Linked DNA regions of Homo sapiens: regions 1, 3, 4 and 5 are each linked to region 2. Evidence: fine-mapped expression QTL. A gene starts in region 2. Each other region holds a variant in brackets. All regions are shown on one strand. Distances are between the middles of the regions. Region 1 overlaps FNDC3A (fibronectin type III domain containing 3A). Region 2 holds the start of FNDC3A (fibronectin type III domain containing 3A). Region 3 overlaps FNDC3A (fibronectin type III domain containing 3A). Region 4 holds the start of LOC107984559 (a long non-coding RNA gene). Region 5 has its middle 160 kb from the start of FNDC3A.

What was found. PIP is the estimated chance that this variant, and not a neighbour inherited with it, causes the effect. A credible set is the group of variants that fine-mapping cannot tell apart.
Region 1: its variant is the best candidate, but not a certain one, in a credible set for the expression of FNDC3A in whole blood (INTERVAL, PIP 0.88).
Region 3: its variant is the best candidate, but not a certain one, in a credible set for the expression of FNDC3A in whole blood (INTERVAL, PIP 0.75).
Region 4: its variant is the best candidate, but not a certain one, in a credible set for the expression of FNDC3A in whole blood (INTERVAL, PIP 0.72).
Region 5: its variant is the best candidate, but not a certain one, in a credible set for the expression of FNDC3A in fibroblasts (GTEx, PIP 0.56).

The regions. Positions count from the first base shown.
Region 1 is chr13:49,199,272-49,204,379 of GRCh38, forward strand. It overlaps FNDC3A (fibronectin type III domain containing 3A), which reads left to right. Exons shown (of 26, transcript NM_001079673.2): 24 at 2,529-2,695; 25 at 3,886-4,013. Among named protein-coding and RNA genes, the nearest start is that of MLNR, 19 kb to the right of the region's middle. The variant G/T (reference allele first, on the strand shown) is at 2,933.
Region 2 is chr13:48,972,764-48,977,871 of GRCh38, forward strand. FNDC3A (fibronectin type III domain containing 3A) reads left to right here and starts at 3,149. Exons shown (of 26, transcript NM_001079673.2): 1 at 3,149-3,414. RefSeq lists enhancers at 2,354-2,413, 2,684-3,303, 3,114-3,413, 3,304-3,923, 4,084-4,183 and silencers at 2,864-3,133, 3,464-3,943.
Region 3 is chr13:49,189,024-49,194,131 of GRCh38, forward strand. It overlaps FNDC3A (fibronectin type III domain containing 3A), which reads left to right. Exons shown (of 26, transcript NM_001079673.2): 18 at 1,992-2,097; 19 at 2,186-2,361. Among named protein-coding and RNA genes, the nearest start is that of MLNR, 29 kb to the right of the region's middle. The variant C/CT (reference allele first, on the strand shown) is at 1,938.
Region 4 is chr13:48,863,536-48,868,643 of GRCh38, forward strand. LOC107984559 (a long non-coding RNA gene) reads left to right here and starts at 1,390. Exons shown (of 3, transcript XR_001749987.2): 1 at 1,390-1,451. The variant G/C (reference allele first, on the strand shown) is at 2,388.
Region 5 is chr13:48,813,311-48,818,418 of GRCh38, forward strand. No RefSeq gene overlaps it. Among named protein-coding and RNA genes, the nearest start is that of FNDC3A, 160 kb to the right of the region's middle. The variant T/C (reference allele first, on the strand shown) is at 2,667.

The sequences.
Region 1 (5,108 bases), 230 kb after region 2:
CAGCCTCACTGAGTGCTGAGATTACAACTCATGAGCCACTGTGCCTGACCGAAACAATTTTTTTTTTTTTTTTTTTTGAGACGGAGTCTCACTCTCACCAGGCTGGAGTGCAGTGACGCGATCTCGGCTCACTGCAATCTCCGCCTCTCAGGTTCAAACAATTCCCCTGCCTCAGCCTCCCAAGTAGCTGGGACTACAGGTGCGCACCACCACGCCCGGCTAATTTTTTGTATTTTAGTAGAGGCGGAGTTTCACCATGTTGGCCAGGATGGTCTCCATCTCCTGACCTCCCGATCCACCTGCCTCGACCTCCCAAAGTGCTGGGATTACAGGCGTGAGCCACTGCACCCGGCCCTGAAACAATTTTATAGTAAATGATTATGATCGTTCCTGGCCTCTGAGATCCTTGAGGGCAGAGATTATGTTTCAGTCTTTTCCAGATTCCTGACACAGGGCCTGCACGCTAAATGAATACAGTTCAGTTTTTCACTGTGTGATCTCAGTTAGATTCTGTGATTAATTATCTAGTCCCTTTGCTAATCACTGTTGCTAATCTTTGCTAATCTTTGAATTAGAAAGAACCTAATTTCATTCAGGTTCTTTCTGTGCCTCTTTCACATCTTCATGTACATGTTGTACTATTCCTATATAATGTGCCATATACTGCCACACTAAATCATGTATTTTAATTACAGTGTTAACTCTGAATATTTGTAACAGTCATTCTAATGCCAACTAGGGCTATTTATTCACATTATATTCCATATAAGCAATGCCACATACCTCCCACAGCTGTTAATCCTTTAATATTTTAAGAATTTTGAATTTTGCTTTTCTACTTTTCACTGAATATATTAGAAACAATTTCCAAATCTGATGGACTCAGAATACTAGTAACAGTTTTTCCCAAGATTTACTTTTCTGTGTTGTTTGTATCTTAGCCAGGTATTCAACAATGAAATATTCATGGTGCTTGTACATAACCACTCTCTATCAGAAATACTTATACATTTAAAATAACATATGGAATAATTTTGTATACTAGTATATCACCAGTAAGAACATTACACAGAACAAACGTGATCATTTCCTAAAATCTGTATCGATGAATGTTAGCCTTTGTTCTTGGCAGAATTTTATGTAATCTTTGTAGCCTTATCTCTACAAAGAGATTATTTGCCTTGTACAGGTTTTTGGTATAGCCATTTATCTTTAATATATGTTATTATTACTGGACAAATTAATTGTTTAAATTTTTTTCCTCCCCTTTCTAGCATACATTTGGGGTAGTGCAAGAAGGCTTACTGGAAACAGGTCTAATTAGTGTTTGGTTGAAAGATAATAGAATAAAGATTCTATTAGATATAAATTCTATTATAGAACTTCCAACTTAATATTCAGCTAGCATCTAGAGAATTGTTATGGGGTATGAATATGGCTCATGGCCTTTGGTTGTGGAAAATAAAGAAATTAAAACCTTTTATGATACTGTTAAGTTTAATGCACACATTTAATAAATTAAATCAATTTAATATCTTTGATTACTTTCATTCCCTTTGATTTTCACAACTATATACACTTGCTGTGGGATGGTATCATAATGATACTTTAGTTGTTCCCTGATCCAGATTTTGTCATTGTTCAGCTTTTTTAAACAGTGGTATTACCACTATTTTTTTTTCCTGTCATTAAAAAAAAATTTAGAGGTTGAAAAGGCAAGGCTTATCCAATTACTGCTTATTGGAAGTACTGTTTCTTCCTGTCATTAAATATTTCTTTATTTTTAACTTGGCTACAATTTTCAGACTGTTAGCATTGAATAAGCATTCATTATTCATTCTCTAATTTCCAAAAATTTTAGAAACATCCAATCAAAAATAATGGGATGCATTCAACTTATAGATAACATATTAGGAGAAATATGTATGATATTCAACTTCATTGAACAGTTCAAGTGGGTAATGTATTGGAAATTTTATATTATCATACTGCTTTTGTAAATCTCTAAAAAAACGTCACCAAGTCAACTAAAAATCTGCCTGGGAATTGAGAATTCTCTTTTTTCCAGATAAAGACAAGGAAGATTAAAATAGAAACTTAATCTCATAGCTCAGGTCTCTATGCCATACTTGGCAAATTTTATCAATATGACTTTAGTTAGAAATAATTTGTAATGAAAATTGTGATGTTCTGAGCATCTTTTAAAATGTACATTAACAAAACAGTATTCAGAAACAAAGCTAAACCGGAAGCCTGAGAAGAAACAGTTATGGTCGGACATGAAATTTAGTAACAGACTTTTGGTAAATCATGTCAAATTGGGAAATTTACCAAATATCCTATTTTTCTTAATCTGATGAAAAACAGATTTATTTTAAGTGACATAGAGTTCCTGGCATCAAACTTTTGGGGTAACTTATCACTCCTAAATAATGTTCATAACTGTGTTTTTATACTAGTTTGTAAAACACTTTAATAAGGTATCATAAGGTAGTATAAGGTTTATCTAATAGTTATTTCCATTTTAGGTTTGTATCCCTATACAGAGGACCATGTCATACATACAAAGTACAAAGACTTAATGAGTCAACATCCTATAAATTCTGTATTCAAGCTTGTAATGAAGCTGGGGAAGGTCCCCTCTCCCAAGAATATATTTTCACTACTCCAAAATCTGTCCCAGCTGCCTTGAAAGGTAAGTTATACATCCTGAACTTATTTTCTTTATAATAAATTACTTTTTAATGTATTTTCATAAATGCTTTGTTTACTGATATTAAAATTTAGCATCCAGTATATGTCCACCAGTTATACAAAATCGTATAGGCAAGCCCAACTCTACTGAGAGTTCCACTCAATAATAAAAGCTGTTTTATCTGGCACGCTCATATTCAGACAAGTACTGGCTTTTGTCACTGATGTTTTTAATAAT[G/T]TAGCATAAAAATACTAAATTGAATAGGAAGGCTGGTTTTCTAATGAGGTCATTTGCTTAAAGAAAAAAATCACAAACTCTGGTTGTTTAAACGTTTTGAGTTATTGATATTACATTCATTTGGATTTCAGAAGGAAAGCTTGGTCATCTGTTAAGCAAAACAAATTCTTCATTAATGTGGGTTTTTCAATTAGTTTTACACACACATGTACACATATTTACACACATTTGTATATACATTTATCTTTTAATTTTAGAGGGGTTCTTATTTTAAAGTGACTCTGGCAAGGGCTACACTCTATTTTTAGCTGAAAAGTCTATAAAGTTAATTGCTCTGAAGACTAATCACAGAGACTTCTAGAACCATATCCTAGATCATGTACTTAAACCTATCATTTGTTAAACAGCAGAACTCTTCTTGACTAGTCTTTCTAATAATATTGAGTTTCACTGAGTCATTTTTCTGTTTGCTCATCAAGTTTAGTGTCTCTTAGCTTTAAGAAGAGTGCTGACTATAAGCAGGGCACAGTGGCTCACACCTATAAGCCCAGTGCTTTGGGAGACTGAAGTGGGAGGCTCACTTAAGGCCAGGAGTATTGAGACCAACGTGGGCAACATACTGAGACCTGCCTCTCTACAAAAGAAATTTTGAATCAGCTGGGCATGGCAGCATATGCCTGTGTGTGTAGCTGCACAGGAGGCTGAGGCTGCATTGAGCTATGATCGCACCACTGTTGTCCAGGCTGGGTGACAGAGTGAGATCCCATATCTTAGAATACAAGAGTGCTGATTTTAACCTCTTTGGATGCAAATTTCAAAAATTCACTGATACTTATTTCAAGTTTATAAGTGGATTTTAAATATTTGTTGATTTTTATTAAGACAAGTGTCTGCATGATGTACCAAATTAAAAATCAAGTGGAACAGATATTATTTATATTTGTTTCCTACAGCCCCCAAAATAGAGAAAGTAAATGATCACATTTGTGAAATTACATGGGAGTGTTTACAGCCAATGAAAGGTGATCCAGTTATTTACAGTCTTCAAGTTATGTTGGGAAAAGATTCAGAATTCAAACAGGTATGTACCAAGATATTAATGTGTGGATGCATATTTTTACCCTTTTTTAATTTTTATGTATTTTCAGTGTAAGATTTGGCCATCTTTACCTTTTAATTCATAAATATTTATTCAGTATATATTATGTTCCAGAGATCTCAAGATTCCAAATCTTTTCAGTATGAACTACACTTGAACAGATTATTCATTTATCTGATAAGTATTCATTGAATTCTGTGCCAGGCACTCAGGATATAGCACTGAACAAAAAGTCCCTTGCCTCCATGGAGCTTACTTACATTCTGGTGGAAAAGAAGACACTATAAGCAAGTAAACATGACAATATATTGTCAGATATAAGTGTAATGGAGAAAAAACAAAATTGGATAAAAGAAATAGGGAGTGGAGGGGGAGGGCACTGAGTGTTATTTCATTTGGGGCACTCAGCTGACATTTCAGCATGGCCCAGAGGAGATGACTATGGAGAGAAGAGTGTTCCAAGAAGATACGCTGAGGCAGGAACATGCCTATTAAATCTGATGAACATAAAGGAGCCAATATGACTGGATGGAGAGAGCAAAGGGAAGAGTTGATAAGGTCGGATAGTTAATCCTAAGGGGCCTATAGGTGGTATGGAGTGACGTAAGGCATAATAGGCCATACTGTGGCTTTTACTCCACGTGAAATGAGAAGACAGTGGAGGATTTTGACCAGGGTATTCACGTGATCAGACACAACGTTGTTTTGACTATAGTGTTGAAACTACAGTAGGACAAGGGCAGAACTAGAAAGACTAATAAGGAGGCTTTTACAATAATAGTATTAATAATAGTCATAATGCAGTGCTGTAAATATGACATTAGGCATGAAGTTATAATGGAAACCTAGAGGAATTGTCACCTTCCTAGCCAAGAGGTTTCAAAGATAGCTTTCTGATAAAGCAAGAATAGCAGTGAGATAGAGTGGAGTGTTGCCAATGTTTGTTACAACTTTTAAAAAGAATAAGCTTTTATACCACTCCAAAGACTAATTAAATACCTATACATTTCACCTGATTTTCCCTTTTTCCTGTAACCTTAATTTTGAGGGCTTTTAAGCTGGGTTGTTTTCATTGTG
Region 2 (5,108 bases):
CCTAATGTGGGGAGCAACAGACATTAACCTAGTAGTTACACATACCAAAATGTAGTTACAAGCTGTGGTAAGTCATAAGAGGGGAGGGTATATGGTGGTAAGAGAGCTGACATAACAAGGTATCTTGAATGTATCTGGGAGGTCAGAAATGTTTTTCCCAAGGATGTCGCTTTCAAGCTGAGACCTGAAGGATGAGTAAGAGATAGGATAACTAAAGGAGAGAATGGCATGTACATAGAGCCTTTGGTTGTTGGGATCATAGCATTTTTGAGAAACTAAAAGAAGACCAGGAAGTCTGCCCAGGAAACAAGGTGAAAATGGTGTGAGATGAGGCTGGAAAAGGCAGGTAAGGCCAGACCTCGTATGGTCTTTTAGGCTGCCTTAAGAATTCTAGACTTATCCTAAAGCAATGAGAAACTGTTTAAGGAGATTTTTGGAGTAGTGACATAGTCTCATTTGCTTTCTTAGAGGATAATTTTGGCTGCAAAATGGAGACTGAATGGAGGATCCCAGATTGTATACAGTGAGATCGAATTAGATTGGTGGTGATTGGAAAGAAGTAGACCAATTAGATTTTAGAAATAAAATTGCCAGGAGTTAGTGCTGCAACAAATATGGAGAATGGAAGAATGGAGGTGAGGGAGACATCAGCGGTTACTGACTACTAGATATTTGATTTGAATAACTAGAGAGATGGGGGATAAGGAAAACAAGTGTTCATGAACTCAGTTGGACTAAACTTTGCAACTTTGAGATATTAAGTGGCCATGTCAGTGAAGCTTGGAATTTAGAGGTAGGGTCAAACTTTGACTAGTGGATCAGATTTGGAATTTAGAGGAAAGGTCTGGGCTGGAGGCATATATGTGGAGATCACTGGCATATAGATGATAACTAAAGCCATTGGCGTGGGTGATGCTGCTTAGGCCAAGAGATTACAATGAAAACAGAAAAGAATCTAAAACTGAATTTTAAGGTACTGTTATATTTAATAGTTAGGGAGACCAGCAGGAATATGCAAAGGAATCAGAGAAGCAGTGCCTAGGAAACTAAGGAGGAAAACCAAGAAAATGCAGTGTCAAAGGAAGAAGAAATGTTTAAGAAAGAATAGTGGTCAAAGTGTTGAGTATTGTTGAGAGGCCAAGAAAGATGAGGATTGAAAATGGCTCCCATTTTATTGATAAAAAAAAAGTGAAGCATTGAGAAGAGAACTTGTTCAAAGCCAACATAATTTCTTGACCCTCTCTCTGTTCCCAGAGAACTCATACTGGTGCACATGCTAGGGTCATTTATGTGTGGGTTTTCTTCTCTCCAAAGGCCATAAATTCCTTGGTCTTCACTTTACTTCACCTTACTGCATTGCATATTATTGACTACAATCTCTAGGTCTTCAATAACATTCTTAAATTATGTGTTAATCTCCTTCAAAAACAGCTGATCTTCTTTACTCTGCCTTTACATGTAGGCATGTCCCAAACATATTTTTTTAAATATAGTTTTTAAAAGTGCCATGTCTTGGCCTCTCCCTGGACAAAGGAATCAGAATCTTGAGGGGGTAGATTGCAGGATTCTGTATTTTCAAAAAGCTCCTGAGTAGGAAGCAGAGTAGGAAAGTATTAGCTTAGCGGTAAGTTTGGAAACCACTATCTTAGTCTCAGACCAAGCATAGTTGGGCAGTAAGATGGGGAAGCCACCCCATTCGCCCACACTCTGATAAAATCCTCATACTTTGAAACAATATACAGTTATACTTCAATTATTCCAAGATCAACTTGCCAGCTGTCTCGAAGAGGGCCAAATCCAAAAGTTAAGAAAAGGAAACATCTCTCACAGGGAAAGAACTTCTGATAGTGAAGAGCAATGAAAATATCTCAAGATACCACTGCCCTATTTACAACCAGAAGAAAAGAAACCTCTCATTAGCTGGCTGTGGACATAAACATCCCATCAATCTTCACCTGGAGCCGCAGAGAAAACCAGCCGAGAAAGGAGAGAAGAATGAAAAATAAACAGTAAAGCAGAAAGAATAAGAGGAAGGATCAGAGTGGATAGAGGCAGATGAGGAGATGAAAAGCAGTGAAGGATTTTAGAAGAGGTGATGAGAACATTCCAAAGAGGGAAAAAAAGAGAGCACCAAAGTAGGGATTCTATACACCGCAGCAATCCTCTGGGACTTAAACGTATGGCCAAGATATCGGTTTGAGAGTCAGTTATCAACAAAGGATTTAATTAGCCATTGTATTCTTTAAGAATATAGAGAATAATCACATTTTAAAGAGATTTCTGTAAAACAGTTTTAAAAATACAGCTATTTTAAAAGATCGCACAATTAATACACTGAAATAAAGCCCAGACATGCAACTTGTTACATCCATCACCATTTTTGAAAGGACAGTTCCTGAGGCTGGACTCACCGGCCCAAGTACTACCCCCTCCCCAGGTCTCCGGCGGCAACTGTAAGTCAAAAGCCCTCAGGCATTATTGCAGCGTCCCACATTGTTTGAGGTTCCAGGAAGTCGCTGCTACGCTCACTTGTAAGTCTTCGTGCTGTTGTAAAAATTGAGGTCGTGGTTTTCCACGCGATTTGGCTGGCGAAGAGACCACGAAGCCACCCCCCACGTTTTCAACTGAGTAAATATCTAAATATTTTTGCTTGCTATCCAGATCCTGGGTTCGAAGTCTTTGGGATTAGAAACTTCCAAGCCCATTTCAGAGGCTTCCTAGTCCTTGGGAGGAGTGTCTTTTAAAGCACCTGCCAGCCTTAAGTTCGCGTGCTTTCGGAAAGGGGCCGACAGGGTGCGTCTCAGGGGAGCCTTTTGAAATGTGGATTGAGAATTGTGTGAGTGTCTCTAGGAACCTCCATTAACTCCACTTTTCCTGAGTGTAGCTCCGAGCCTGGCCACAGCGGATGCTACCACAAGCCAGGCGCAGCCGGGCCTCGGGAGAAAGCCGGAAGCCCGAGAGGGTGTGGGCGCTCCGGGAGCCAAACGCGGCCGCTCAGCCGCCACGCGCCGGTGGCCCCGCGGGGACTCGCGTTCCGGTGAGAGAGCCCCGGCGCGGCGGGCTCGAGGCGGGGGTTCGGGGTCCCGGCCGCGGGCTCCGTCGGCGGGGCCCGCGCAGCCGCACTCGGCGCGCCGACTTCGGGCTCCTCCTCCCGGCTCCGTAGTAAGCATGGCGGCGGCGGCGTTCGTGGTCCCTCGGGTGAAACAGAAAGCGGGAGCTACGCGGAGAGGGAGCGAAGAGCGGGGCTGAGGCGGCGGCGTCACTGCCAGGAAACAACCCCAACAGTCAGCGCGCCGGCGGCCGCGGCGGCCCTGAGAGCTGACTCTGCAGCTGAGGTAGAGAGACAACGATCAGGAACCCTAAGAAGAGGCGCCAGAGGAGCCGCCTTCTGCCTCAGAACGGCGTGACTCGGAGGTGAGAGCGCGGGCACTCCCTCCGCGAAAGGCGGGGGACACCGAGCCGTCCCAACCCCGTCCCGCCCCGGAGGAGGCGCCGCGGAAACCGTTAGGCTGGGACTGAGGGCCGGGGCACTCTCCAGGGCTCGGCCCCGTCGAGGGGCGCGGACCACCCCCTTCTGTGGGCGCGCTGTGGGCAGAGGTGCAGAGGGGCAGTGGGGCCGGGGACAGGACCGGTCTACTAGTCGGGCACCTGCCGGGGCCGAGCCTAGCCAGGACACGCTTGCGGGGGCGCGGCCGGGGGCGCCATCCAGCCCAAGAGGAGGCGGCATCTAGCCCGAGGGAGGTGGCGCTGGTGCGCGGGCGGCCCTTCTCTCTGTCCCCCGCCTCCTCCCCGCGGCGAGCCGCGTAGCTCCGGAGGGCTCGGGGGCGGGGGCGGGGGCGGGGGCTGGGGCGGAATCCTCCTGAGAGGATCGCCCAGCACCCGCGGCGCCTTCGGCTTTGGCCGCCCGGCAGCCGCCGAACTTGAACGCTTTTCTGAAGAGAGTTTTCCCCGCTCATCTTGGGGTTAAAACCTCGAAAACCCGCCCTCTGTTTGATCCTGCGTGGCTGCTTCCAGTACCTGGCAGTTCCTCTCCCCGGGCGAGTTAACCACCTGTTCAGTCGGGAGGTGGACTCGAGGCTGCAGTCCTCGCCCGGTTTTAACAACCTGGATCTTCGAACTTTTGACACGGCTTTGGAAACGACGTCATGTGTTAGGTAAAGGAAAATGAACAGATAATTTCGCTGTCAGATTGCGAGCAGAAGAGGGACTGTTTTAATGGATGTGGTCGTTAATTGTTCTTTTATTCAACTGTTAGCGTTACAAGCCTTGGGATATTTTAGAGGGTGGAATGCGATGATTTGCTGGGGGTGCTAGAGATTGTGAATTCGAGATTTTCTTTTGTGAGATTTTACGTAAGTTCCTTTGGACACCTTTGTGTCTGACCATCTATTAAATAAGAGTCGCAGGCTGATGAGATTTTTTTTTTCTTTTTGCGGTATAATCATTATGTGTTCACTATGGGTTTTTAAAACCGAACAACGTAATTATTTTGCTTCTTACTGTGGTCTGTGTTTTTTAGTTCTTGAAACCAAAGTGTGTATGCTTCTGTATTGTAGGAATGAAATAACAGTTGAACTCTTACTATAATATTTTATCACCATGCTGTTACCAGCTCCAGTACTAAACATACGCCACTCAGGAGTTTGAGCCATATGTTAGGCAGAAACGAATTGAGTTTTGTGGTTCTGATCTTATGTTTGGATAAATATTTAGTTTTTGCGTATTTACTAACTCTTGTCATCTTGTGTCACCCACAAATGTTCAAGTGAGTTGAATCCCCTGTCTTTTGGATATTTTCTTGGTTGAATTAATTTTTCTTAAGTAATGAGATGAAGTACTCACTGAGACAGATGGTGGCCCAACAGAAAACAGTGATGAAGGATTTTTACCACATCTTTTATGAAATATAACCTGAAATGTTGCTTTTAGCTTTGTAGCCTACTAATCTTGCTTTCTAATCACACCAGTTAGTGGGAAGAAGGGATGATGACAGGAGAAACATCTTGTTAAAATTTTAATATTAAATCTTATATTTAAATTTTTTAGCACTACTACATTAAATTTTACTATATTGTCTTGTTTCATTTCATAGATCATCTGTTAGTTTT
Region 3 (5,108 bases), 220 kb after region 2:
AATCTACTTTCTAATATTTACTTACTTCAAAAAAGTTGGCCATTATTTTATTATTAGAGACTCAATAACCAAAATGAACTTAAAATGTACCATTGATATAAAGACATAATGTTCTAGGGATGTATGTTTATTAATGAGTGATTTTTTTTTTTTTTGGGAAACAGTCTCACTCTGTCGCCCAGGCTGGAGTGCAGTGGCACGATTGGGGCTCACTGCAACCTCTGCCTCCTGGGTTCTGCAACCTCTGCCTCCTGGGTTCAAGAATTCTCCTGCTTCAGCCTCCCTAGTAGCTGGGACTACAGGCGCCCCCCACCACAACTGGCTAATTTTTGTATTTTTAGTAGAGACGGGGTTTTACCATGTTGGCCAGGCTGGCCTCGAACTCCTGACTTCGTGATCCACCGGCCTCAGCCTCCCACAGTGCTGGGATTACAGGCATGAGCCACCGCACCCGGCCAAGTGATTTTTTTTTTTTAAATGAATTAAACCAAGAATGGTTTCTTGGATCATTCATAATTGCTGGGTTTTTTTTTTGAAATGAAATTTAATGCAATGAAAGTATTCTTTTTTAAAAATGAAATATAGGCATTTTGTTGAAAATGAAACTAATGTGCAACTGAGTGTGAGTCCTGCCCAACTGGCTTGTGCTCCAGTTGCTTCATTTTATCCAGTAAGAAAATCTCCCTGGATTTCAGAAAAGCAACAACACATAGACATGCACAAAATCCTGTTCTACTATAGCATTTTACAGCATTTTTACATAGATAGCTTTCTGATAAAAAGATGACCAAATATTTTGTGTTTAAAAAGAATGTTAAGTATGAACCTTAATATGTTGCAAGTAAGTAATATGCCACTGAGTTTGTGGCATTGTTTTTTTTGAGACAGAGTCTCACTCTGTTGCCCAGGCTGGAGTGCAGTGGCACGATCTCGGCTCACTGCCAGCTCTGCCTCTTGGGTTCACACCATTCTCCTGCCTCAGCCTTCCAAGTAGCTGGGACTACAGGTGCCTGCCACCATGCCCGGCTACTTTTTTGTATTTTTAGTAGAGACTGGGTTTCACCATGTTAACCAGGATGGTCTCGATCTTCTGACCCTGTGATCCACCCGCCTCAGCCTCCCAAAGCGCTGGGATTACAGGTGTGAGCCACCGCGCCCGGCCCAGTGTGGCATTGTTTTTAACAGAGTGTCTTTAAAAATAAAGGCTTTTTAAAATATAAATATAGCATAGAAACTAAAAGCAGTATCAAATACCTAGAAAGATGCCAAGTAACTGGAAAAGCTTACCTGATTTTAGAATTATTTTTAGGTGGAAAGGATGAAGGAAAGATAATCTTTTAATGTATAAGTTAAGCTTGGTGCAGTGACAAATGTGTATAGTCTCAGCTACTCTGGACGTGGGAGGATTGCTTGAGCCTAAGAATTTGAGGCTGTAATCATACCTGTGAATAGCAACTGCATTCCATCCTGGGCAACATACCAAGACCCCATCTCTAAAAATAAATAAATAAATCAGTGTTTAGGTTAAAAATACAGTCTACAGTAGTAAAGTAGCCAAAATATTCTAAACCTCCTTACAACAATACAAACAGCATATACAGTATTTTAAAACATCCCTCCTTAGAAGAGATTTATGGATCCTTTTGGAGAAGATCAAAAATATTGCCCATTAAATTGTGTTGGAAGTTGTTTTTTTCTTTAGTTATGGAAAGAAAAGGAAAGGAAGGGTTCATTGAAGTTCTTTTTCAGTAACTTGCTTTGTATATAGTAGTTGCACAGTACATGTCTTTCTTTGTCTATGAAAATTTTGAGTTTTTATTTAATTGGGTTTTCATTTTTTTTCAGAACTTTATTCCTTTTTTGTTGACAATCAAGTACAATTTCAAATTATCAGTGCAATATTTGTGTTTATATTATTTTTCCTTACCAAAAGCAAT[C/CT]TGATTATTTGGTTTTGGGGCATTTTTGTTTTCTTTTTGCTTTTGTTTTGGCAGGTCTCTGAATCTTTACTTGTGCAGACTCCAGCTGTGCCTCCTGGCCCATGCCTCCCTCCCAGATTACAGGGTAGACCCAAAGCAAAAGAAATACAGTTACGATGGGGTAATTTCCATTTTGGTAATAAATTATAATTAAGCTAGAACAGGAAGTATTCGTCTTGTTAAATTGCATTAATCTTTCCATCTTTTAGGACCCCCTCTGGTTGATGGTGGATCACCCATTTCCTGTTACAGTGTGGAAATGTCTCCTATAGAAAAAGATGAACCTAGAGAAGTTTACCAAGGTTCTGAAGTAGAATGTACAGTGAGCAGCCTTCTTCCTGGAAAGACATACAGCTTCAGACTACGTGCAGCTAACAAAATGGGGGTAAGAAGACTGTGCTGGTAGAATTATAATCACAATGGTGATATATGTTTCATTTTAACATATATCATCATATCCATTATTTGGCCATTTGGCTTTAACATATGACTCCAAATTTTACAATTTTTAACAAGCCTACATTGATAAATACAAGAGAAGTCGGTATATTCCATAACTTAATTTTTATGAAATCTCAGTATTTTTAGATCCCACTTACAGTTTGTGACACTTTGGACTTCAGCTGGGCTAGAGTTTACCTTTTAGGCAGTGTTAATAGAGTTTACTTAATCAATTTAAGAGTAGAAATAAAATCATAAGTACTGAAGTTTTTTGAGGCTGATTGAAGTTTTTGAGGTTTTTGAGGCTGATTGAAGTTTTTTGAGGCTAAAGTAGCATTTACTTTCAGTTGGCAACTAATTATGATTCATTTTTTTTGCCCAAATGAAAAAAAACTTATGCTTGAAACTATTCTGGTTTTGTATGTATTTTTTGAAATATTATCTATGTATTTAATATATAACTCCAAAAAGTGGACAAAGTAGGTGATATCTCCATTTCACAACTAAGGAAACGGGTTCAGGAAAGCTAAATATTTTGCCCACAGTCATACAAACTAATAAGTGATAGAGGTAAGCTACAAACCTTAGTTTGTCAGACTCCAGAGCCAAAGCTCTTTCCACTCAGCTATGACACCTCTCATCTCTCTGCAATAAAGCAGGTTCCCTAAGGACAAAGCAGTAATTTCCTATCTCAGCTAAATAACAATTTCTTTCAACTATTGTATAATTAAAATTTTTATAGAATTAAACTGACAGTTCTCTCCTACCCATTATTTTGGTGAACTATACTATATTTCAAATCCTGTTTTCCAACAGGGTTCTGTATTTACATCTGTAAACTTATTTTTCAATTTATTTCTGTTTGATTTTTTGAAACAGGGTCTCACCCTGTCACCCAGGGTGGAATGCAGTGGTGTGATCTTGGCTCTCTGCAACCTCCGCCTCCTGGGCTCAGGTGACCCTTCTACCTCAGCCTCCCAAGTAGCTGGGACCACAGGTGTACATCACCACACCTGGATAATTTTTTCATATTTTTAGTAGAGAGAGGGTTTTGTCATGTTGCCCAGGTTAGTCTCAAACTCCTGGGCTCAAGAGATCTACCCACCTCGGCCTCCCAAAGTAGTGGGATTACAGGCAAGAGCCACTATGCCCGGCCTAAATTTCTTATATGTCAAATTTATATACTTAGGCTGCTCTTACACAAGTCATTCCTTTCTGTAAGAAGCCATCTTGTCAGCCTCACAAGGCTGCAGTACACTAGGATCGCATCTTTAATACTTACGTCTTAATTTATATTTTCAGGTTTGTGATAATTTGTCAAAATCACCTTAAGTAAATATTTACTTTCCGTATTTCCAGAGAACATACATTTTAGACCTTTCTAAAGCTATTCCAGATTTTAAGATAAAATTTATGCCTACCAGAGAGCAGTACTGATAAATAATGTACTATAAGTACACTATTTACAGTTTTATTTTAAATAAAATCCATTCAGCATGCTAGAATGGTGAAGCTTTGTCATTATTTTGTTGTTGTCGACATGAATTAACCTTGTTCAAAAAAGGGGGGCAAAAAAATGACATTTGTCATGGAAAACTTTTTTTAATCCCTATAGGACTTGAGGAACAGAATCCTTACTTCAGTTCTTATAAATAGTTGTGCTAAACCTCAAGTTTCTATCATTTAGTGGCCCTTTCCATGCTCTCCATGAACTAAACTGAATTATCTGTGTGACTGATATGTTTTCTTAGGTTGCCTTATAACATGTATAACAGTACTCTTTATTTGTAGATACCTTTGTATGTATGTGTGTGTATAGACAGATAGACAGACTTTTTTTTTGAGACAGGGTATCTGTCACCCAGGCTGGAGAGCAGGGGTATGATCATGGCTCACTGCAACCTCAACCTCCCAGGCTTAAGCGATCCTCCTGCCTCAGCCTCCTGAGTAGCAGGGACTATAGGTGCACACCACCATACCAGGCTGATTTTTTACTTTTTTATAGAGATGGGGGTCCCCTTATGTTTCCCAGGTTGGTCTCAAACTCTCGGGCTCAAGTGATTCCCCCACCTTAGCCTCCCAAAGAGGTGGGATTACAGGCATGAGCCTCTGCACCTGACCTTTTATATATACTTATTATTGTAAATCATTTGCTGCCACTAGCAGTCTGTAAGTCTATACTATTAAATGACATATTGGCCAGGCATGGTGGTAAATGCATGTAATCCCAGCACTTTGGGAGGCCAAGGTGGGTGGGTCACTTGAGGTCAGGAGTTCGAGACCAGCCTGACCGACATGGTGAAACCCCTTCTCTGCTAAAAATGCAAAACTTAGCTGGGCATAGTGGCGTGTGCCTGTAATCCCAGCTGCTCTGGAGGCTGAGGCAGGAAAATCACTTGAACCTGGGAGGCGGAGGTTACAGTGAGCTGAAATCATGCCACTACATCCAGCCTGGGCGACAGAGTGAGACTCTGTCTCAAAAAAAAAAGCAATTAAAAACAAAAAACTATTAAATGACAGATTTATATTTGGAATTTTGGCTAGGCACAGTAGCTCACACCTGTAATCCCAATACTTGGGGAGGCCGAGGCTGGCAGATCACTTCAGGCCAGGAGTTCGGGACCAGCCTGGCCAACATCGGGAAACCCCATATCTACTAAAAATACAAAAATTAGCTGGGCTTGGTGGTAC
Region 4 (5,108 bases), 110 kb before region 2:
TTTGCGTATTTTCCAGAATTCAGGATCGATATGCAGCAATGCAGTCCTGACCTTTTCACCATGGAATCAGTAACACCATTGAGACCAGTAAGTGCACTTGTCCGAAGTACAGCCAAACTTCCTGTGTTCCTGCCTATACCCCAAGGCATCCAGCCCTCTTCCTGATCCTCTCTTCTTCCATCTTTGCCACCCTTCTTCCCTGTACTTGTCCTTGAGCAGTTATGTAATTGCTCCCTTCCCTTGGTTTAAGTGTTAAAGACCCAAGGCCAAGGAGAATCTGTGATTGGGGTTTGGAATTATTTATTGGGATTCTCAGCAGGATTCTCATGTTGAAGGGGGATAAAGGTACACTCAGGGAGGAAAAAGGACTCAACAATTTTGGCTCTGGATCCTTAGGATATGAAGTATTGAATCTAAGGGATGGAAGAGGATTCAATGAGACCAGTGCTTCTAATCCAGCCTCACAGCCAGGCATGCCAGTAGTAATTATAATAATACTAACAACAACAACAATAATATCTGTTTGATGCTTCAGAAATGATATGTGTTCAAGAGTAAATCAGGTGTGCCTCAGGTGTAAGATGATTTCAAGGCCAACAAGAAGGCTTTCTGGGCTTTCTGAATAAATCTCCACTGAGCTTCTTGACAGTGCATGCAATTCTTTTAACACAGGGACAAAGATTTTCCCCAACACAATTAGAGATAAAAAGGCTTAAAAATGTAAATGTATAGGAAAGGTGACACACTGGTATTGATTTGATTCAGTCAATGTGCAAATGATGGTATCAGAAACTTTCTCAACTCCCTCCTCTACTCAGACTCTTAAAACAAGAATTTAGTAGTTTTTGCATCTGTCCTTGCTCATGTTCCCTGGATTCCACCCTCCTCTGAACTTTGATCCATCAATGATCCCTCTGCCTTCCAATATTACTAATCTCATTCATTCAGCATCCTCATTGCTAAGCATATCCTAGACACTGGGGATGGACAAAACAGACAAAAATCCTTGCCCTAAGAGAAAAGATAAAGCAGTCAAGAGATAATTAGGGGTCAAGGGGAGAATGCTGAAATTTTAAATAGGGTGGTCAGGGAAATCTTCTATAAGAAGGTGATATTTAAACAAAAACTTGAAGGAGGTGAAGGAGCATGCATTCCAGGCAGGAGACACAAGTGCAATGGCCCTGAGGTCTGATATCCCTGGGACAGAATGTGCATGAAAGAGAGGGTCACCAAGGAAGCCAGTAAAATGAAGTCACTGAGATCTTAAAGGTCATGGCAATTGGCTTTTGCTCTGAGTGAGATGGGAAACTACTGGCGTATTTTGAGCAGAGGAGTGATATGATCTGAATTACATTTTAATAGGATCGTTCAGCCGCTGCATTGAGAACAAACTGGAGGGCACAAGGATGGAAGCAGAGAGTCCTTTTAGGAGGCTGATGCAACAAATCCGGGTAAGAAAGAAGAAAGTGGCCTGAACGAGGCCTTAGTCATTAGGGAGTTAGCAGTGGACGTGGTATGAAGTGATCAGATTCTGAACATATTTTGAAGTTGGGGCCAATAGTATTTGCTAAAAAATCAGATGTAAGGTATGAGAATAAAATAAGAGTGAAGGATAACTCAGAGGCTTTGGGCCTGAGCAACAGGAAAAATGGAGCTGCTGTTTCCTGGGATGGGGAAGATTTTGGAAGGATTAGGCACAGGGGTAGAATATCAGGAGCTCAATTTTAAATGCTAACTAGACATCCAAGTGAGATGTTAAAATAGGCAGTGGATATATAGTCTATAGTTTTGGGGAGAGGTTCAGCCTGGTATTTAAAGTCATGACACTAGGGAAAAACCACCATGGGAGGAAATATAGAGTTAAAAAGGCAAGAGGATGAACTGGTCTCTGGCACAGTCCAATTTTTAGAGGTTGTGGACGTGGAGAGGAACCTGCAAAAGAGGAGAAGGAGCAGCCAAAGAAGTAGAAAAACTAGGCAAATGTGATGTCCTAGAGGCCAAGGGAAGAGAATATGTCATGAGAAGGGACTGATGGGTCAAATGCCACAGATGGGTCATGGAAAATGAGGACTTTTCATTGACCATTGAATTTAGCCATCAGAAAGTCTTTGATGACTTTGACAGGGAAGTTACAATAGAATGGTGGGCACATTCCTACACTCCACCACTGCTCATGGAAGTTAATTCAGAAGAAGAAGAAAGATGAAAACTTGGAGACAACTAATAAAGAAACTTCTTTTGAGGTGTTTTGCTGAGAATGGAAGGGGAGAAACAGACAATGGCTTGAGAGTGAAATGGGAGTTCAAGACTTTTTGTTTTTAAAATGAAAGAAATCTTAGTGGGTTTGCATGCTGATGCAAAAGGGAAAAAAAACGGTTAAGTCAAGA[G/C]AAAAGAGAATTCTGAAGCAGTGGCCTTGAGCAGAAAGAAGTGATGGGATCAAATGAGAGGGAAGAGAAACCCCGTCTTAAAAAAAAAAAAAAAAAAAAGGTTGGGGAAGGGATTGGCTTTAGTTAGGAATATGGACAATGATCCATGTTTTCCACTCATCCTTCCTCTCAGCCTCTTTTAGCATCTTTTGGCTTCCCTGTTGCAAAACTAAGAGCAACAGGCTGTTTGCATCCCTCAAAATTCATATGTTGAAATCTAATCCTAATTTGATGGTACTTGGAGGTGTGGCTTTAGGGAGGTAATTAGGGTGATGCCTTCATGAATGGAATTAGTGCCTTTACAAAAGAGAGCCCAGAGAGATTCCCTTGCCCCCTCAACCATGTGAGAACACAGCAAAAAGTGGCCATGTATGAACCAGGAAGTGAGCCTTCACCAGACACCAAATCTGCAGCCACCCTAATCTTGGACTTCCTAGCCTGCGGGACTGTGAGAGATAAGCGTCTGTTGTTTTACAAGCCAATGGTATCCTATTAGAGCAGTGTGAACAGACTAGGGCAGTAAGCAATCTTCAGTTGCGTCTAACTATGCTCTATAGCTCTGCTTCCTTCTCTTTATAGTCTGTTGTCTTCAAAACATTGCCCACATTTGCTCTGCTCCTGTGGTTCCCTTTCGTTTGTTGGCACGAGATAGCCCAGCTTCTGCGCACCAGTGGCTCTGGAATTGCCTATTTCCAGGGACTGTTTTTTGTTTTTTTTGTTTTTTCTTTTTTTACTGAACCCTTTCTCAAGTGTCTGTGCGAAGAGACCACCAAACAGGCTTTGTGTGAGCAACAGGGCTGTTTAGCAAAGGGTGGTGGGATTATCGTTAGTTCTTACAGGTTTTGGGATAGGCGGTGGAGTTAGGAGCAATGTTTTGTGGGCAGGGGGTGGATCTCACAAAGTACATTCTCAAGGGTGAGGAGAATTACAAAGAACCTTCTTAAAGGTGGGGGAGATTACAAAGTACATTGATCAGTTAGGGTGGGGCAGAAACAAATCACAATAGTGAAATATCATCAGTTAAGGCTATTTTCACTTCTTTTGTGGATCTTCAGTTGCTTCAGGCCATCTGGATGTATATGTGCAGGTCACAGGGGATATGATGGCTTAGCTTGGGCTCAGAGGCCTGACATTCTTATCTTCTTATATTAATAAGAAAAGCAAAACAAAATAGTGAAGTGTTGGAGCAGCAAAAAATTTTGGGGGTGGTATGGAGAGATAACGAGTGATGTTTCTCAGGGCTGCTTCAAGCGGAATTAGGGGCAGTGTGGGAACCTGCAGTGGGAGAGATTCAACTGAAGAAAGATTTTGGGGTAAGGGGTGATATTGTGGGGTTGTTAGAGAAACATTGGTCTTATAGAATGATTGGTGATGGCCTGGATACAGTTTTGTATGAATTGAGAAACTAAATGGAATACACAAGGTCTGAATAAAAGAAGGAGAAAAATGGGTATTAAAGGACTAAGAATTGGGAGGACCCAGGACATCCAAGTAGAGAGTGCCCAAAGGGGTTCCGCGTAATTACTTGCTTGGTTGGTGAGTTTTTGAGCTCTATCCTTGACAGAGTCCTCTTTTTTAGGTTGGAGGCTGAGCTTGGTGAGGTTTGTTTTTAAAAGACCATTAGTCCGTTCTATGTTTCCTGAAGATTGAGGACAGTAAGGGGTATGAAGGTTTCACTGAATACCAAGAGCCTGACAAACTTCTTGGGTGATTTGACTGGTAAAGGCTGGTCCGTTATCAGGTTATATAGAGGTGGGAAGGCCAAACCGAGGAATTATGTCTGACAGAAGGGAAGAAATGACTGCAGTGGCCTTCTCAGACCCTGTGGGAAAGGCCTTTACCCACCCAGTGAAAGTATCTACCCAGACCAAGAGATATTTTAGTTTCCTGACTCTAGGCATGTGAGTAAAGTCAATTTGCCAGTCCTGGGCAGGGGCAAATCCCTGAGCTTGATGTGTAGGGAAGGGAGGAGGCCTGAATAATCCCTGAGGAGTGGTAGAATAGCAGATGGAACACTGAGAAGTGATTTCCTTGAGGATAGATTTCCACGATGGAAAGGAAATGAGAGGTTGTAAGAGGTGGGCTAGCAGCTTGTAACCTACATGGAAGAGGTTATGAAATGGCGACAGAATTAGAATGGGCCTGTGAGACTGGAAGGAGATATTTTCCTTGGTCCATGAACCATTTGCCTTGTGTTCAGTTGGGGAGTAGGTGGGAGTGACCAGATGAGAAGGAGAAAAACTGCCATGAGGGATAGAAGTTGGAATGCTAGCTGCTTTTTTAGCTACTTTATCAGCATAAGCATTGCCCTAAGCGATGGGAGCTGATGCCTTTTGATGGCCCTTGTAGTGTATGACTCCAGCTTCCTTTGGAAGTAAAGTGGCCTTGAGAAGAGTTTTTATTAAAGAGGCATTAATGATGGAGGAGGACCCTTGCACAGTGAGGAAACCTCTTTCAGCCCATATAACATCATGCTGGTGCAGGATATGGAAGGCATATTTACAGTCAGCATAAATATTGACATGCAATTCCTTTGCAAGAGTGAGGGCTCGAGTTAAGGCAATGAGTTTGGCTTGCTGAGAGGTAGTAGAGGGGGGACAGAGCAGTAGCCTCAATGATAGATGTGGAAGGTACTATAGCATAGCCTGCCTTTACTTATGAGTGGCGATTAGGCCTGGTAGA
Region 5 (5,108 bases), 160 kb before region 2:
TCTCCCATTCTGTAGGATGCCTCTTCACTTTGTTCATTGTTTGCTGTGCAGAAGCTTTTTCAGAATACACAGTTTTTAAACTTCTGCATATTATACCCTGGTCAATTGTTCTTTTTCTTCTTAGGCTATTCCACTCCATAATTCTTTTCAGCTATTAGAAATTCACATCATAAATATTTTCTGATCTCTTTTTCTCAAAGTATATTTTAAAACATAGGACAAGAAAATGATCTTAGATCTTTTAAGAAACATCAGGAAAAAAAATAATAATAAGAGACCCAGGCTGTGAAATATAAGACGCATTAATGAAGTATTTTTAGCAACACTGACGCAATGGAAAAATTAAAATGGAATTTAAAGTTCCGAATGAGTGGGTTGAAGCAGGGGCACAAACATACTGAAGTGTAGGTGGCAGAACAGTCACAGGGAGAGAAATGCAAAATGCGGAGTTCTGTTTTCAAAGGAGTTTCCCTTCTATGGTTGTGTAAGTGAAAAGAAACATCAGACATTGTCATGATTGGATTGGCATTGAGTAGAAGGTTGGAACAGACTGGCCACTAAGATCAATTAATCTAACTTTAATAATTTCGTGATTCTACAGCTTTCAAATTAACTGGAAATTTACCAGATTAATGCTTTTGTTGATACTGTGTCCATCTTGCCCAGACTAATTTTTCCTGGTGTTTACCTTGCAGAACACAAAGATCGGCCAGGCACGGAGGCTCACCCTGTAATCCCAGCACTTTGGGAGGCCGAGGAGGGTGGATCACCTGAGGTGAGGAGCTTGAGACCAGCCTGGCCAACATGGCAAAACCCAATCTCTACTAAAAATACAAAAATTAGCCAGGTGTGGTGGTGCGTGCCTGTAATCCCAGCTACTTGGGAGGCTGAGGCAGGAGGATTGCTTGGGAGATGGAGGTTGCAGTGAGCTGAGATTGTGCCACTGCACTCCAGCCTGGGTGACAGAGTGTGACTCCATCAAAAAAAAAAAAAAAAAAAAAAAAAGGAAAGGAAAGAAAGAAGAAAGAAAGAAAGGAAGAAAGAAAAAAAGAAAGAAAGAAAGAAGGAAGGAAAAAAAAGAAAGCTGAAGACCATGAGAACTTCTTCTACCAAAGGATTCTGGGATAAATATATTTTTGGCCATTTGGCATACTATAGATTAGGGATCAGCAAATTTGTCCCGTGAAGGACCAGATAGTAAATATTTTAGGCTTTGTGGGTTATATAGGGTCTTCTTCTCCTCTTCCTCTTCTCCCTTCACCTTCTCTCCCTCCTCCTCCTTCCACTTCTTCACAACCCTTTAAAAATATAATGAATATTCTTAGCTTGGAAGCTGTACAAAAACAGGCTGTGGGCCATGTTTGGCCCATGGACTGGTAGTTTGCCCACTCCTTAATATTCGAAATATATATTAGCACAGTAAAGACTCTGAAAAGATCTGTAAGATAAAAATCTGTTTAACCAGATTTATCCCAAACTTATTGGACCAGAAAACTCTTTTTCTCTTAACCATTTCATATCTCACATAATTAGTTTTCCATGGAAAATACTTTGGAAAATTCTGACCTTTTTTATATAGAGAGAATAATAAAATTTATCCCTACTATATAAAGAAACACTCCAAATGGCTTAAAGACATAAATAGAAAAAGTACCAGAGACTATCTCTGTGGCCTTGGAGTATGACTATATTCCCAAGCAAGATTCCAAAAAAATTAAGCACTAGGCAAAAATTATGAATTTGACTACATCAATATTAAGGATTTCTGTTCAACAAATAGCATGACAGAAAAACTTAACAATTGCATAAAAGATTGGGAGAAAATATTTGCAATGTTAAAAACCATAAAAGATTAATATTTCAAGGAAATTTTGTCAATTAATAAGAAAAAGATTGGGACTCTAAAAGAAATGCAGGTAAATGATGTCAATAAGCAATGTATAAAAGGGGAAATCAGAATGGCTAACAAATATATGTTTAGCTGCATTAGCAATTGTAGGAATGCAAATTGAAAAAAGAATAAAATACTCCTTTATACTATGCATAAGTTGGCAAATATTTTTAAAATTAGATAATAGCCAATATTAGCAAGTGTGTAGGAAAATGGCTTTTCTCATGCACTGCTTGTGAAAGCATAAAACCAGTGCAACCATTCTGGAGAAAAAAATTGGCAAAACTTAGTGAAATTTAGTACATCTAGTTTCACTCTTGAGTCTAAACCCAGAGGAAAGTATCCATAGATCCAAAGATGACAGGTACAAAGAAGTTCATCACAGCATTTTATTTCATGGTAGGGAAGGGATACTGGGAGGCAAAATAGCTGCTCATCAGCAACCAAGGGATGGATAAATAAAATACAGCTGAAGCTCATATGGAATACTATACAGCAGCCAGAAACAATAAACTGGAGGTACATAAAGCAACATGAATAGAGCTCCTGAAACTAGTGTTAAGTAAAAAAAGTAAAATTCTGGGCCAGGCTCAGTGGCTCACACCTGTAATCCCAGCAGTTTGGGAGGCCGAGGCAGGCAGATCACATGAGGTCAGAGGTTCGAGACCAGCTTGGCCAACATGGAGAAATCCTACCTCTACTAAAAATACAAAATTAGCCAGGTGTGGTGGCACATGCCTGTAACCCCAGCTACATGGACGCTGAGGCAGGAGAA[T/C]TGCATGAACACGGGAGGTGGAGGTTGCAGTGAGCCAAGATCATGCCGTTGAACTCCAGCCTGGGCAACAAGAGCAAAACTCCATCTCAACAACAACAACAAAAAAGTAAAATTCTGATCGCACTACAGACAGTGAGATCTATAGCATAATGTCAATTATAAAACTAAAAACATATATACATATTTTTATATATCATATACATACTAAACATAATGGTGGGGTATCATAAATAAAGGGGAAAAATAATATAAGTAGAGATGAGGTTTCACCATGTTGGCCAGGCTGGTCTTGAATTCCCGACCTCAGGTGATTCACCTGCCTCGGCCTCCCAAAGTGCTGGGATTACAGGTGTGAGCCACTGTGCTTGGCCAATTTTTTTTTAATACAGATTACCACTGTCAAGATTGTAAATAATTCACTGGTTATAATTCTTAAATTTTATACCAAAATTATATGATTTTCCCAAAGAATACATTATCCTAAGTCCTTGCAGTATAATTTTATTAGTATGGCTTTTGAACTATTCATGTCCCCTATGTAAACAAAAGCTCTCAGTGAAAAGGCAGTTCATTTTGAGAGGTACTGTAATATATGTAAGAGTATCTTGAGTGTGTGGAAATAACATGGATTGATTTTCCCTAGGTGGAGAAGCAGGATGAAGCAAATACATCTAATACTTCCTCATTCACTCTACGTTTGCATATTTGTATCAATTTCAAATGAAATTGCAACTATAATCTGCCTATGTTACAAGATCAGAGTAAATTCCCTATAGCAAAATAATCAAAGCAAAAAACAAAAAACAAATGCACACATGAGGAACTCAACAAAAAGAGCTGAATTAGAGCTTTTCAGCACACACTCCGAAAAACATAAACACAAAGCAACCACAGGCAGGCTATAAATTGTCCTGAGTTACACAATGGAGTGATAAGACAGAGATGACCTGGAAGATGTGAGCTGGCGGGACTGTCTGAGATTGATTAGTTGGCTGCCTTAATGCACAGGTAATAGGATGCCTTTCAGCTCCAGTCTGCCTATTTTAGTCCAAATTTGTTTTCCCTCCTGCCTTAAAAATTAGAAGAGTCCCTGTCACTTCAGTTCTGCAATTATATGGAAGCTCATTCATCTCACAATACTCCAAAATACACAAATGCCATCCTTTTTTTGCTATGCAACACAAAATGCAGTGCTCTTTTATCTAATGCCATCAACACGCAATCTCACAACGTACTTCTGAAGAAATTGATTCCAAAATTTAGCAAAATGTCAAGGTTTGGAGAGGAGATGAGAAAAAGAGACAACACTATAATAGATGCTAAGAAGAGAGCCAGGAGCAAGCTGCAAAATTGAAGATACCAGATGTGAAAGTGAAACCATCTCTATTTCATAGCAAACCTGAGCAGCAAACAATGATTCCAAACCTGCAAAGTGGAGCGCATGTGTGGTGAAAGGAATGACAGGCTATGTCATTGGGAAAGTGGAGAATTTCAGAGCCTAATTTTGGGAGTAGCCAGAAAACCAACCAAACAAATTGATTTGGAAGAGAGAGGTATGGAACTTTATGCAGAGGTGACAATCGTCAGGATAAAGGCCAGCTTAGGAGTAGATGCACAACTTTCAGCATGCCAGGTGTCTCCTACATGAAAAGTTGTGTTTTGGGCAGCCTTCTCCAAGCCTCCATCTATGTGATCCTAAACTGATGTCTCTTGGGGAGAACTCTAGCCTAATCCAGTCCAGAGCTTTCACATGTAGGTTTGTGAGCTGTCAACATGAGTATTCTGATATCAGAGGGGACTTGTACACAGAAAACACTATCGTTATCAGATAGAAATCAAATTAGTTGATTAAATACAAATTTAAAACCTTGTTTACTTTAAGGACTTGAGGTTTAACTTAAAAATGTTATTGGGCTATTATATCTGATCCATTCACATCAAACATTCTAAGCATCTGTAACAAGGAACTCCCCTTTCAAAATTAGTTAATCAAATACCTTTTAACACTTTAAGCCTCATTAATAAAAATAATGCATTTCATTTTTTCAGCCCTTCAAATGCCTAAATGGCTTCTGGCTTACAACCAGAAGAAGCAATAGCTTCTTCAAATACTTAGAAGGTTTTGTAAAATGAATGAATTAAAATGTTAAGCTCTTTTAAACAGTCTAATACTGGTTATAGGCCAAGTCCATTTTTCTTATGCTGTTTTTGCTTATATGAGAAGCCTAAATTCAAATACACATTTTAAATCAAATGCATAAGACTTACATGTCAGTTTCTCCAATGTAACAAATTCTCTGTGACATGACACGAGCTTTTACTAGCAAGCATTTATTAAATATCATTACACTTGACACACAAGTATCAATACTATGTGTTGGTTATATTTTATCATCTCTATCTTCAGTTCTTCCTATCTTATATTTCATATCTTAGGTGAGT